2 separate regions of the Homo sapiens genome follow, and region 2 is linked to region 1. The links come from fine-mapping of genetic effects on gene expression. A gene starts in region 1. The other region holds a variant in brackets. All regions are shown on one strand. Distances are between the middles of the regions.

Region 1 (4,412 bases):
AGTAGAGATGGGGTTTCACCATGTTGGTCAGGCTGGTCTCGAACTCCTGACCTCAAGATCCATCCGCCTCAGCCTCCCAAAGTGCTGGGATTACAGGTGTGAGCTACCGCACCCGGCCAGATATTTAAAAATCTTATTAGAGAACCAATTTTTGGCATGTGAATTCTATCTATAAAATTTATATTAATTTATGCATGTACTTATTTCCTTATGTTTGTACTTTGTGGGTTTGCTTTATTTTCTTAACTTAGTTGGAAACTCAGGCCATTTGTTTTAAGTCTTCTTTTGTAATTTATGTTTTTAATAGTAATATTTTCTTGATGTTCCAAAGTTTTGATATAAAATACTCTTATTTTTTTTTAAGTTTTAAGAATTTCAGATTTCCAGTATAATTTATTCCTTGAACACAGAAGTTATTTAGATGTATGTGTATTTATTATTAATAGCAAATACATATTTGTAATTAATTTCTACTTAATTGCATTGTGGTCCTAAAGAGTAATTTGTCTTACAGTATACTAGTTCATTATTAACTTTTGAAAATGTTCCTTGTGTGTTGGAGGTGGAAAAGTGGCTACTTTACTAATTATTAGTTACAATGCTTTATTTTTATTATTTTATTATTATTATTTTGAGACAGAGTCTCACTCTGTGGCGCAGACTGGAGTGCACTGGTGTGATCTCAGCTCACTGCAACCTCTGCCACTTGGGTTCAAGCGATTCTCTTGCCTCAGCCTTCCAAGTAGCTGGGATTACAGGTGCCTGCCACCACACCTGGCTAATTTTTGTATTTTCAGTAGAGACGGGTTTCGCCATGTTGCCAGGCTGGTCTTGAACTCCTGACCTCAGGTGATCCACCCACCTCGGCCTCCCAAAGTGCTGGGATTATAGGCATGAGCCACCGCGCCTGGCCAGTTGCAGTGTTTTTAATATGTCCTTTAGATCAAACTTGTTAATTCTGTGGTTAATATCTACATAGATACTAATTTTTTGTTACGCGATCTAGCAAAGGTTCAAAGAACTGCACTGAAATTTCTGATGGTGGATTGCCACTTTTTTCCTGTAGTCTGTCAGTTTTTACTATGTATATTCTGTGACATTTTATTAGCCATATATATGTTTAAAATTTTTAGATCATCCTAGTGGTACTGTACCATTTTATAGTTATGTAATAATGTAAGTAATATTATGTATATAAGATATATTTCTATATCTAATAATGCTTTTTCTCTTTAAATGTATTTGTCTGATATTAATTGATACTTGCTTAAAGAATTGTATTTGCTAGATATAGTTTTTCCATCATTTTACATCTTGCTTTTCTGTATCCTTATGTTTTGAATGTATCTCTTTTGAATAGCCAATACCTGGGTTTAAAAAATGTCTAATTAGACAATATATACCTCATAACTGTTAAATTGAAATCATTTATGGTTTTTGTTACTATTATTATGTTTGGAATGATTGCCTCTTTAAATTCTTACTCTGGAACTGGAAAGAATGGTAAAATAACTCTGGTTTCAAATAGAAACTCCTTGCTGCTCCTTCAGAGAAAGCCAAATGGAGGTTTAAAAGTCCTTTCCATTTCCCTACCAAAACAAAAGCAACAAAAAAGAAAATTAAAAATCCTCATTCTCTGGAAATGCTTGAAGAAGGGAAAAAATAAATTGGAGATACAATGATTGGCAAAAATGACATCTTTATTTATTTTTAATAAAAGATAAATGTAATGTAGAGCCATGGCCTTATTCTTCTAAACTTCTGTGGGACTTACACAGTTTATTATGTAAGTCTCTGTAATTCAAGTTACCCGGAAAGTTCAATTTCATGTGTGATTATTATTGCCTATTGAAAGTGCATCTGATTTGTTATAACAGGAACCCTGTAGGGGAAATAATTGTATGTTGTTAGCAATGAATATATGTAAACCTTTAAAAATGAATTAATGTTTTTGATATAGCATGTTTAATTCAAGCTAGTCTGTGTTCAATTATTGGAAGCAGGGAGTGAACGCTCTAAGAAATAAAATAACCTAGGGTGAAACACCTTATTTTATGAAAAACTAATTTTTAGGAGCATTTTCTTTTATACTATGTAAAAAAATCCCTGAAAGATGAACAGACTTTGACAGCTGTTATAGGTGAGAGCCTCAAGTAAAGATAAAATTAAATGTTTTCCTTAAATGCTATTGCCCAAATAATGAATATCCATAATTGAAAACTGAGATTACCTTATACTTTGCTTTGTTCTCTCTGCCAGAGTCCTACCCACTGTATTAGTTGTTAGAGTTGTGGAACTTAACCGAAGCTTTCTCTGGATTCCAGGTAACTTTGTTCTTTTGTTTTTGTTTTTTTCCTGCAGAATCGATATATGGGCCTGAAATATATTAAGGTAGATCTTCTAATCTTAGATAATCCTGAATTTTTTTGTTAATGCATTCTTTGCATTGATGATTGCCAGTATGAAGTATGCTGTGATATGAAAAGCACAGGAACCAGGGATGGGAGGCCCAAGGTTAAATTCAACCTCTATATCTTCCTGGTTGCATAACCTGGACTAGTCAGCTAACCACAAACACTTCAATTTTGTCATCCTTGAGGAGGACATATTGAAAACATTGTTCTACCTACCTCATAGAGCAATTGTGTCTCGTAGTTCTTCCAGTGAGATAATGTATGTGAAATAATTATGTAACATAACACATCATAAAAATGTTGGCTATCTTTGGTGCAACAAAGCTATTCCACAGCATGGATTATACTGTCTTTACATCAATTCTTTAGTAATTATGAACATACATAGTATTTGACTTTTATATATGTTTCAGGAATGCAATATCTAACTTATTCATGAGGTACTTTATTTTCATAGCAAGGCATATAAACAACTACCTATGACAAATGTATTTGTTCTTAAATGATTTTTCAAATTTTTGTTATTAAAAGCACAGGAGTTACTGCAGTAGCACCTATCTTGAAAAGTCAAGTTAAAATGATTATTGTTTGTGTATATAATATATGTGTGTGTGTGTGTGTATTGTGTGTGTAATTTTTTCAAATCCAATTGTTGTAAAAGATAACTGTTTTGTCATAGAGCCTGCATATTTTTATCTAAATATATGTTCGTACCATTTTAGTCATTATACTCTTTTCACGTTTTAAACTTCCAGTTAGAGACCAAACTTTTGAAAATTGACTAGAGAAATGCTGCTGTTGAGTTTACTTTCTTCTGAAAGAATATCTTTTCCTGTAATGGGAGGTACAATATTTCTGTACAGAGCTACTTCACTCCCACAAGTCATAGGTCATCAAGAAGAGCATCTACATCCCCAAATGTTTCAGAGTGTAAGTCAAAAACTCTTACAATTCCACTTCTTTTCATGTGTCTCGTAGATGTTTTAAGAATATTTTCAGCTGCATGGCTTGACAGCCTTGGGATTCCCTCACACATTCACAGTCTTTTTTGGATCAGTCTGATGTGAGCATGAAAACTGGGAGTTGTGGAGCCCACTTAGGAAATGATTGCAATTGTCCAGGAGACAGATGATGGTAATTAAGTTTCCATCAGCCTGGAACTCAGGACAGAAGATACATATTCTGTATGTAGAGGTAAGCAGTTCTTTCCTGGGGATGATTTTTACCTTCCAGAGGACAGTCGGCAATGTCTGAGGATAGTTTTAGTTGTTGCAACTGAGGGAGGGATGCTAATAGTATCTACTGGTTAGAGGCCAGGAATGCTGCTAAACATACTATAATGCACAAGACAACTCCCCACAGCAAATAATTATCTGGTCCAAAATGTAAACAGTGGTGATTTTCAGAAGCCTCGGTGTAGATGGTACCTGAAGTCGTCAGAGGGAATAACAGCATCTGAAGTGTGAGGGAGGAGACTAATCCAGAAAAACACCAATAGACAAGGAGCATGCATGCCCCCGGTCACAGAAGCAGAGAAGAATCTGTAGAGTGGTATTATGAAAACCAAAGTGAGGAAAGAATTTCAATTTGGGATTGGTAATCAGCATTCAATGTAGCCGAAAGTTAAGTAAGATGAGGACTGTTGAGTCTAACAGGCTTGGTGGTTAGGTGGTGTATTGGATATTCTCCATTTGCTTCTTAAAATTCACGTTCTATCTTTCTCCATCCTGTTTTATCCCTAGAGAAGGTTGACTTAACAGACTTCATCAACAGGGTTCTCTTGTCCTCTGGCTTTCAGCTGGATTCTGACAATGAAAGGTTCTGAAAAGAGATAGAAGAGCACGAGGAGAGAGTGCAAGTTGTTTTTCCCTGAAGCTCTGTCCCTCCTGGGCCACAGAGTGACAGGGGCAGTGTTTCTCTTCCAAAAGCAAAAGCTCCTGTTGGGCAGCTTTTTCCTATAGCTGCAGGTCTCACTGGTTTCTTGCCCCCTCCAGGCCT
Region 2 (4,412 bases), 74 kb before region 1:
AACTACACTGCTGGTAAAAAAGTCAATATTCTCAGGCAGGCGGGACTGCTAGACTTCACTTGATGAAGAAGAAAAAAACCAGCTGATATAATAAAGTACTTGGATTTAAACTGACTTCTAAATTATAACAGCAACAGAGATTTAATTTTGAAATAGGGATATATTTATATTCTTTTCCAACAAAAGGGAAACAATTTATCAGTTTAGAAGAGTAGATATAAATTCATTTAACTGAATTTCCTCCATAAAACTTGTTCAAGAAATCTTGACAATTTCCCTCAGTAATGTTAATAGTTGTACCATAAGGCAAAACATTCAGAGTATAACCTCTTTTTCCATCAGTATCTCTTAAAAGGAAAAAATCTTTATGAATTTCATTAACACTTCTAATAAGCAAATGAGCAATAACAAAATAATGCATATAGAGACACGCCAAATTGTGAAATGGTATAAAAAAGGAGTTCTACCTATGGTCAAACAATATTATTATTTCTAGGCAGGCTATTACAACTGTCTGATAAAGAATGATTATGGCAAATAGGAGAGTTTTATTACACAGAGATTATTTTAATTTGAAGAGCAGTTTTAGGAGATTTGGCTATTATTCTCTAGTTGAGAATCCTAAGGAAAACATAGTAAATGCATTAAAAAAAGGTTAAAATGCTTTCACAATTTTATATAAAAATTGAAATACATAAAAATTGCTAAATAAAGGTATGACGTTTTGAGATCAGCAGTGTTTAATAAGTTTCAAAATGTGTTTATTGAAAATCGTATTTAGATTTTTCTGACTCAATCACCTTAAGAAAAAAAAATACCTAGTAAATCATTTCTCATTTGTATTGTTACCACGGCTAAATTTTAGGAATGGAACCAACCTTCATAGCTTGTTCAAGCTTAACAGATAAACTTGCTACAGCTTTCTGTGCACGTTCATATTCCTCACGCTGGCGTTTCAAAATTGGTGCTTTGGCTTCCACTTCTTTCACTATTTCATCTAGGTACTTATTAATTCTTTTGTTCTCTAGTTTCTCCAAAAGCAACTGATCCTGAGTTTCCACATAAGCATTATAGAGCTGAAAGTAGACAAAGGGTTGTTTCAAATCTAACCATAACAACGCAAATATTTAGTTGATCTAGTTTCATAATAAACATTCTTTAACACTAACACAAAATGGCAATGTTTACTATGTTAGTTACACAGCACTAGGAACCAAAGAAAGCCTTTCCTAGAATGATCCACTAATTATAAGATGATTTTAAAAATAAGTTTTGGGAGAATTAAATTTTGAAGAGATTTGTATACATTTGCTGAAGAAAAAGAATTTAACAACATTTAATACCATTCTTACCTCAGTTAGTTTCATCCCAGGTTTCACTATCTTAGCTACAGCTGCTGCAGTAGGAGACATGGCGGCAAGCTCTTCTTCAGACAATATGGCTCCTGTGCCAACAAATACACATCTAGTATAATTTGTAAAATTCCAAACTAAAAGCCATTAATAATTTTTCAAGGTAAGTGACATGTACTGTACATTATATAGTAATTCCTATAAAAATTTTAAATACATGACATCAAAAAGTCATGTAACACATCTAATTCTAAAAAATCATGCAATAACCTGGGAATTTACAAGACTGTGTGTGATCAAATGGTATTTATATGCCCGATTCTGTAAAGATACAGGTAAGAGTATTAATTTTAAAACAAATTCTATTAATATAACTCGATGGAGTTTCCTACATCACAGCATGACAGATAAATACTATTAGTGAAATTAAATGACTTTTATGTAGGAAAGCTGTAGTATTTCAACTCACTAACAAGCATCTATTAGCCATACCTTTACGTTTTGTGGCAGAAAGAAGGTCATTTGCATTCTCTAATTCCTTCTCCAATCTCCCTATTTTCTCAAGCATTTCTTTTTCCATTTGATCTTTGGATTGCTCCACCTCTAGAAGATGATCTTGTATTGCTTTGTTGGCTAAAAAACAATTTTAAAGACCAAATATTCAAACATACAGTTAAAATTTTAGTTTACAAAATGCAACAGATCAGTCACTTCTCCCCTCAGCAGATAATATTAAATTTCTAGAGAGGCTTCAGCTGACAGTATCTATTGAAAGTTCTTGCTCTACTTATAATTTTGGAATTGTCTTCGCCTGGTGTTTCTCCTTTTGATGTCTCTTACCCACAAAGAAAATAAGGAAACCCAAAGGGTAAAAAGTGGTTCTAGGTATATCTTTGATTTCGATTTTGATCTTTAATCCTAAGTAAAGGAAATTATTGGAAAAGACCATAAATATAATACATTGAAAAAAGCAAAAATTTGAGGAAATAAAAGACTTTACAAAATGCAAATAAAGAGGATGTCTTATTTATAAAGTAAGAGTATTCAAACATTATCAGAGTAAATGTTTCAAAAAAGAAAACTTTCTCATTAGAAATCAGCAAATTATACAAGATTATTAGATAAAAAACAAACAAAACCCCCTGCTGTCTGTATTTTCAAAAATATATAAACTTACATTTGCTTAAGATATAATTCTGAATTTCCTAATCCAAAGTTCTTTCTTCTGTACCTAATTC[T/C]GTCCCAAATAAAGTCTAACACCTAAATCCAATCATCTATACAAAACAAGGGTAAAAAAAAAAAAAGAGTACAATAACAAAAATAATGTTCCCATAACTGAAAACACTTACCTTCACCAGCTTCTTTCAAAAGTTTGTGTAGTTCCTCTACTGCCCGGGTTAGTTCATTGCTCTTTGCTTCTGAGTCATCAGCGGCACTCTAAAAGTTAATCTTAAAAAGTTACCTAACAGTCAACAATGCAACATTTAGATACTAACATGTGTGGTGGGATATTTACCTTGTACAAATTAGAAAGTTTTATGTGGGCATTTAATTCATTGTGGAATTTCTCTTCCATACTGGCCTGTTGTTCCTTGGCCTGAAAAAAATAGCCCAATTATAGCAGTCTACTTTGAACTAAATTTAGAATGCTTATCAAATGACAAGATGAAAAATTCCATTTTTGTAAAGTAAGAGCTAAATCTAAAACACTCAAATTCAAATCAGTCTTCATGACAAAGATAAATTAAGGATAAAATATTACTAATATTTTAAATTCAAAGTAAAATAATTAAACAATAAAATTAACCCATACTCATTTTTTAGATAGTATTTTCAATATAACATATAATTGCTATTTCTGATTCTATTTTAGCCTAGCTACAGCATATGGAAGGAGGACTCTCACTGTTTTATGGGGCCAAGGACAGATTAAAAAATGACATCATTTTGTGAAATAACAGCTTCGTAAGTGCTTTAGTATTTTGTAAAAAAGACATTTTAATGGTCATATATACCTCTTTTAATTTGGTCAACAGATCCTCCACATGCTTTTGAAGATGTTCATTTGATGTTTTTAAGCCATTCATTTGTTCTTCCAGTCTAGAAACCTAAAAACAAAAAATAGAGCAGGGGGAAAGGATGTCATATTAACTGAAATTACTCTGACATGAGGTTTATGCTGCTAAGGAAAAGCTAAGTAACTCCCCCTCCCCACCTGAAAAAGCAATTAAAATATGCATATTTAAGAAAACTAAGAGTAACTGCTCACAGAACAATGTTTAGATTTAGCTCACAAAAACTTACCACCACTTCTTAAACAAACACATATTTTAGGAAAGATATATCGTAAGACAGTAGATACTAACCAGATTTGACAAAGAATCTTAAATTCTTTATGTAAACGCAATTGGTTGATTTTTTACGCCAAATGTAATGCATTATTCACATTTAACCACTCATCTTACAACTAATCAGGTACACACTACTGAATACATATTTAATAAACTGACATACAAATGTAAGTTATACTCAACATGAAGAAAAACACAATTTTACTAACTTACCTCTTCTTTTTTATTTTCAAGATTACATTTAAGCTCTAGAATCTCATTCCCTTTTTCTCTTCCAAGAGCCAGAAGTTCATCAGTTTTGGTTTTCAACTCTGTATTCAGCCATGTATTCTGACTATGTAGCAATTCCTTTTCTTGCTCCAAGCGTTTTTCTCGATACTAAAGAAATCCAAGAAAATAACACGTACAGTTAAAGATGATATATGATTATTCAAAAGATTTTGTCTGTAGCTAAGGGACACAAGCAGAATTTTATTTCAAAACAGAAATTAAGTATTTGCATAGATTCTTAACTAGAAAACATTAAGAACTGTAACAAACTTAAATTTCAAACAAGCAAAACAGATGAACTAGAATTGTCCTAATGCTTAATTTTCTGACATTAAAAACAAAACAAAATGCAGCTTTTAATTACTTTATTGCCTATATTTGAAATTTAATTTAGGTGAGTTTTAATAAAAAGCTATAGTTTATGCATTAGGAATCATCT

Evidence for each region. PIP is the estimated chance that this variant, and not a neighbour inherited with it, causes the effect.
Region 2: its variant is the best candidate, but not a certain one, in a credible set for the expression of PDC-AS1 in tibial nerve (GTEx, PIP 0.58).

The regions. Positions count from the first base shown.
Region 1 is chr1:186,432,966-186,437,377 of GRCh38, forward strand. PDC-AS1 (PDC antisense RNA 1) reads left to right here and starts at 2,196. Exons shown (of 5, transcript NR_126002.1): 1 at 2,196-2,324; 2 at 3,393-3,608. It also overlaps a transcript of ODR4 not described here.
Region 2 is chr1:186,358,921-186,363,332 of GRCh38, forward strand. TPR (translocated promoter region, nuclear basket protein) reads right to left here. Exons shown (of 51, transcript NM_003292.3): 6 at 3,917-4,081; 7 at 3,368-3,460; 8 at 2,869-2,949; 9 at 2,702-2,789; 10 at 1,845-1,985; 11 at 1,353-1,444; 12 at 879-1,076. Among named protein-coding and RNA genes, the nearest start is that of TPR, 14 kb to the right of the region's middle. The variant T/C (reference allele first, on the strand shown) is at 2,591.